2 separate regions of the Homo sapiens genome follow, and region 1 is linked to region 2. The links come from fine-mapping of genetic effects on plasma protein levels. Region 2 holds a variant in brackets. A gene starts in the other region. All regions are shown on their forward strands.

Region 1 (2,931 bases), not on the chromosome of region 2:
AGATAGAAAGGTTGGATAACAGTTTGTGTTGGCAAACAGGCACTCTCTTTGCAGATGGGAATATAGATTGAAGACACCTCCTTGCAGGTAATTTTTTGGCAATATTTGACAAAATTGGAAACTCCCCTTCACCTAGCACAATTTCCTTGAGGTATTTATTCTAAGAAAATAAGCAATTTTAGAGCAAAGATTTATCTACACTGAAGTTTCCCATAGCAATCACAGTATTGTTTCTAATATTAGTAATACAAAAAGAAACAACCTGTATGTCTAACACTAATCGATTCTAATTTATGGTGCAACTGAACAATGGACCAAAATGATGCTGTTGGAAGTTTTTAATGATGTGGAACCGCTTGCAAATTATTAAGCTAAAAGAAAGTAGGTTACAAGATAGCAGGAAGAATAAACCATTAAAAATACCAATCTGTGCACTGACAAATGTTATAAATATTTTACGTTATGTTATGTTATAAACATTTTATAATATAAAAAAATGTTAACTGAAGTTACTTCCTGGATGAATTACAGGTGATTTCATTGTCTTCTAGAATTTTCTTTTCCAAAAATGTTGTGTATGCGTGTAATTATTATTTTAATAGGAGACACTCTCCTTTGGTGATATAATTTAAACAGGACGGTACTGACTGATAACCTCCCGGGGAAGGCAGGGAGCCAAGTACTACAGACTTGTATGTTTCCATGGAAATCTAACGCGCCTTTGATTATCACAGATTCTGGAGAAGAGTGAGGACTTGGGTTCACCAGTGCGTTCCCAAGGACAGGCTGGGCTTCTGAGGAAGTTGCCCACCCTCTCGGAATCTGGTTTGGCCTCCGTAAAATGGGCAGATCCCGCTCGGATGGCCCGGTTCCCGGCTTCCTTTTGCGGGTCAACGGCAGCGTCACGCGCGCGAGCGCGGTCTGCAAAGCCCCCAGCGCTGGGCGTCACGCGGGGATTGCTGTCGCCGCTGCCAGCCGCAGCAGCGACGCGAACTCGGGGCGCCCGGCCCGGGCGCGCGGGGGCGGGGACGCGCACGCGGCGAGGGCGGCGGGTGCGACGGGGGCGGGGACGGGGGCGGGGACGGGGGCGAAGGGGGCGGGGACGGGGGCGCCCCGGCCTAAGCGGGACTAGGAGGGCGCGCCACCCGCTTCCGCTGCCCGCCGGGGAATCCCCCGGGCTGGCGCGCAGGGAAGTTCCCGAACGCGCGGGCATAAAAGGGCAGCCGGCGCCCGCGCGCCACAGCTCTGCAGCTCGTGGCAGCGGCGCAGCGCTCCAGCCATGTCGCGCGGCCTCCAGCTTCTGCTCCTGAGCTGCGGTAGGGCTCGCGAGCGCCTGTCTCGCCTGTCGCCCCCCGCCCCTCCACGACACCCCCTCCCGTCGGTCGCTTGCTCACGACGCGCTCTCTCTTTCTTGTAGCCTACAGCCTGGCTCCCGCGACGCCGGAGGTGAAGGTGGCTTGCTCCGAAGATGTGGACTTGCCCTGCACCGCCCCCTGGGATCCGCAGGTTCCCTACACGGTCTCCTGGGTCAAGGTAGGTGCTGCGATACCCACGGGCTGGGGTTTGGTGGGCTCATTTGAAGACAGCAGGAACCATCTCCCCTAGGCTGGCGACCCTCTGTGGCTGCCAGGTGGGGGCGAGGGGCGTCTCCCGCAGCTGAACTTGGAGTACCCAGCCTCCCGTCGCGCCTCCCCCACCCCATCCGCATCCAGGTACAGGGCCGAATTAGGTTTTGCTCTCCGCAGACCTCAATCCCCTTCCTGTCACTGAAGGTGGCCTGAGATGAATGATCCACTTAAGATGTTTTGGAAGGGCAGAGACTCTCATTTGGATTAATTCTGGAGGCCACCTGTGGTTGTGGGCCAGCAGGTCAGGAAGAAAGCAACAGGGACCTAGATTTGGGCATTGGACAGGGGGAATGTCTCCAGACTTCTGATTTCTTGTGTTTTGTGACTGTGATGCCCATGATACATGGGAGGGGGAGGGGGCAATTTGAAAGGAAAGGCTAAGACACAGAAGTGACTTAGGCCATTTCATCCATGGTAGTTATCAGTGGTCATCTCCTTTGTGGGATACCCTTGGCTTCCTCCCCTAGCCCTCCTCCTCCTTCCTCTGGCAGCCTTGAGAGCATCAGGTGGATGCATGAGCCGGAGCCCGCATGTGTAAGAACAGGCCTTGCTGCTCCTACTGTAAGTGGACTGAGTGACAAGGAGGCTTTTTCAAGGTTTCCTCTTGACTGAAACATTCTCAGATTCTAAGATGGCAATGATGGTGTCATTCCAAAGCCAAGCAGCTACTGTTTGATATCACTGGTCCTTCTTTAAGTCAGGCCACTGCTACCACAGCACCTCCATTTTAACCCAAATGAATATGATATTACAACCTTACTCTGTAGCTCTCACTGATTTGCTGTCTTACCACGGGGGCAAATCTCTGCACTTGTAGCTTTCCCCAAAATGCAGGGCGTTCTTCTGCCCACCATAAAAGATACTATAAGAAACTGTACGTCTTTGGCCACTTAACAGTACAAGGCATCATTGCGGTGATCTCTTTGTGTGTGTGTCTCCTAACTGGATGGTCAGTTCCCTGGGGGGCAGTGGCTGTATCCATACTTCTGTGTATTCTTCACGGCACCTAATTTTTGCCCTATAAATTGCAAAGGTGCTCTGTGAATTCAGCCCAGCACTTCATGAGTTATGCATGACGGGGATGGTGCTGCTGCCTCAGAGCATTGTATTGTGTATAAAAGTAAGGTGTTAAATATTCCTACTTCATTGGTACCTTACTTACTGTGGGATCAGAGAACACAACAATTCCGAAATTGTTCTCATAGTCAAAACAATAGTATTTTTAAAAATATTGTAAAAACAATTTTTGAATGCTCACCACGTGCCAAGCTCCAAGGTAAATATTTACATACATTATCCATTT
Region 2 (2,500 bases):
CTGTGCCTCCCCTCACCCCCGACAGCGGCTCCGTCCTGTCCAATCCAGGAGCTGGGGGCCCTGCCACTCCCTCCCTCCTGTCCCACACCCAACAGCTCGGCCAGTCCTGTGGGCCCTGCTTCCAGCATCCATGCCAAATCCACCATGTCTCCCCTTCCCTGTCTCCTCATGGTCCAGCCCCAGCATGGCCCGCCTGCACCCGCCCCGGTCCCAGGCTGCAACTTCTCCCCCAGCAGCTGTCCTCCCGGCAGCAACCACCAGAGGGCGTCTGTGAGCGCCTGGGTCAGGGCCTGTCCCTCTTCTGCCCACAGCTCTCTGTGAGTCCCACTGTCCTCAGGGTCAAATCCCCTAAGTCCTCCCCATGGCCCACCAGGCCCTGCACGACCTGCCCTCCCCTCCTCCCTCTACTCCAGCCACACAGGCCTCCTCCCTGTTCTTCCAACACAACATGCCAGGTGTGGTCCTGCCCCAGGGCTTTGGCACTACTTGTCCCTCCCCATTGGCCTGGAATGCTCTGACATCCTGCAGGTGTCAGGGCCACGTCACCTCCTCCAAGAAGCCCTCCCTGGCTTCCTGCCCTGGCTGTCCAGGTTTCTCTGAGCGTTCACCTTTACACACCACCCACGCCGGTACCAACCACATGTTCACCTCTGTGACTATTAACACGGCTGGCTCTGCCCCAGGCCCAGACCGGCTGTGGTTTCCAGGCCCTGGGCCTCTACAGGCGTGAATGCTGTGATGCTGTGGTCTAGAACCATCCATGTCTGAACCCTGAGTTCTGTGGGTCTGGGTTACACGGACTCGGGGCTCCCTTCCAGCTGGGCCCACCCCCGATATATTTCTGTACGGTGTCTTCAGCACTGCACACATGGACCCAACGTTTGTTGAGTGAATAAACGAAGTGCTCAGTGGAAGAAAGGAAAGGTCTCCCCTGCCTATGACTCCCATTGGGGCAGGTGTCTTTGGTCCACAGCTGGATGCCCAGACCCAGAACACTGCTGGACACACAGCAGGCGCTTAATCCCCTCTTACTGAACAAAAGAATGAATGAACGAACAGCGGCACTCACGGGCAAGGGTGCAGGCTCTGGATGGCCATGACTGCCAGCCCATTGGCCACCTTATCCAAGAAGCTCATGGAGCCGTACACGAACGCTCCGCTGTTCTGTGGAGACACAGGCGAGGTGGTCAGCGTGCACCCCGAGATCTAGGACCCGGCCTCCCCCACCCCAGCCTGGCTACCAGCCCTACCGTGTGGGGAC[C/T]GATGAGGTCGGCCGTCATGGCCAGCGAGGTGACGAGGATGGTGGCACAGCCAGCACCCAGCAGCACAGCCGCTGCGTACACGGCCACACCCAGTCCCTCCGCCAGCGCCACCCAGGCGGCAAAGGCCAGGATCACCAGGAGGCCTGAGAAGTAGGTCATCTGCAGGGACAGCCCCGGGGTCAGGCCCACACCACTGGGTGCCCCCAAGCCTGGCGCTTCAATCCGCCACCCCTACCCCCAACCCCAGCAAACAAGGCATGAGCTGGATGGTCCCTAAGGAGCCCTGGCTCTGGCCCTGGACACAACACCGAGGCTCTGCAGATCCTCCATGCCAGAGCTGTGCTCTCTGTCCACGCCGTAGCGGCTGGAGACGTGTGGCTATTCTGCCTGAGCGCAGGTCAGTTACAACGAAAGCAAACGACGGACTCGGCTCAGTCCCCACGGCCACATTTCAAGCCCTCAGTAGCTGCACAGGGTGGACAGAAAGCGCCAGAGCTCCATGGCTGCGAGTGTATAAACTCGAGACACAGAGAAGCCAGGATCCTAGAATTCCTTGTTCCCAGATCTGGGGCTTTTTTTTTCTGGAGACAAGAGTCTCGCTGTGTCGCCCAGGCTGGAGTGCAGTGGTGTGATCTCATCTCACTGCAAGCTCCGCCTCCCGGGTTCACGCCATTCTCCTGCCTCAGCCTCCCGAATAGCTGGGACTACAGGCACCCGCCACCAACGCCCGGCTAATTTTGTTTTTGTATCTTTAGTAGAGACGGGGTTTCACCGTGTTAGCCAGGATGGTCTCGATCTCCTGACCTCGTGATCCGCCCGCCTCGGCCTCCCAAAGTGCTGGGATTACAGGCGTGAGCCACCGTGCCCGGCCTAGATCTGGGGCTTCTACAAGGCGGGAACTCGGAGGCCTGAGAGCATCCGAGGATGGAACCCGGAGCGGGTGGGATCTCGGCTGCAGGGCACCCCATCCTCCGCCCCAGCTGTCCCCGGTCCCCGCCCACTCACGTTCCTCCCAATGCACTTGTTGATGGGCTTCATGAGGAAGGAGGACAAGAAGCCGCTGAGGTACATCACCAGGGGAATGGTCGCGATGAACTTCTGCGGAGGCAGAGCCAGGCATGCCGTGTCAGTCATGGCTCGCCAGGCTGGGGCCGTCCCATCCCAGCGTCCCCGCCCCAATCTGCTCACCTTGGGCAGGTGGAGCGAGTAGGTGAGGTACATGGCCATGTAGGTCTGGG

Which allele goes with the higher level. Alleles are on the strand shown, and positions count from the first base shown. The strength of an association depends on the size of the effect and on how common the allele is.
For the plasma level of the protein whose gene starts at base 1,240 in region 1, C is the low allele of the variant in region 2 and T is the other (weak association).

The links. PIP is the chance, under the fine-mapping model, that this variant and not a neighbour inherited with it causes the effect. Protein levels are from antibody-based Olink assays in UK Biobank. Linkage for the fine-mapping came from a reference panel and not from the study's own genotypes, which makes the PIPs less certain.
Region 1: CD83 starts here. The variant in region 2 is fine-mapped to the plasma level of the CD83 protein (UK Biobank, PIP above 0.99).

The regions. Positions count from the first base shown.
Region 1 is chr6:14,116,533-14,119,463 of GRCh38, forward strand. CD83 (CD83 molecule) reads left to right here and starts at 1,240. Exons shown (of 5, transcript NM_004233.4): 1 at 1,240-1,316; 2 at 1,418-1,533. The coding sequence starts at 1,280. RefSeq lists silencers at 566-860, 988-1,107 and cis regulatory regions at 603-1,511, 851-1,667, 851-1,506, 1,672-2,172, 1,743-2,569 and 1 more.
Region 2 is chr19:3,545,005-3,547,504 of GRCh38, forward strand. It overlaps MFSD12 (major facilitator superfamily domain containing 12), which reads right to left. Exons shown (of 10, transcript NM_174983.5): 5 at 2,451-2,500; 6 at 2,268-2,360; 7 at 1,251-1,421; 8 at 1,070-1,164. Among named protein-coding and RNA genes, the nearest start is that of TEKTIP1, 7.1 kb to the left of the region's middle. The variant C/T (reference allele first, on the strand shown) is at 1,262.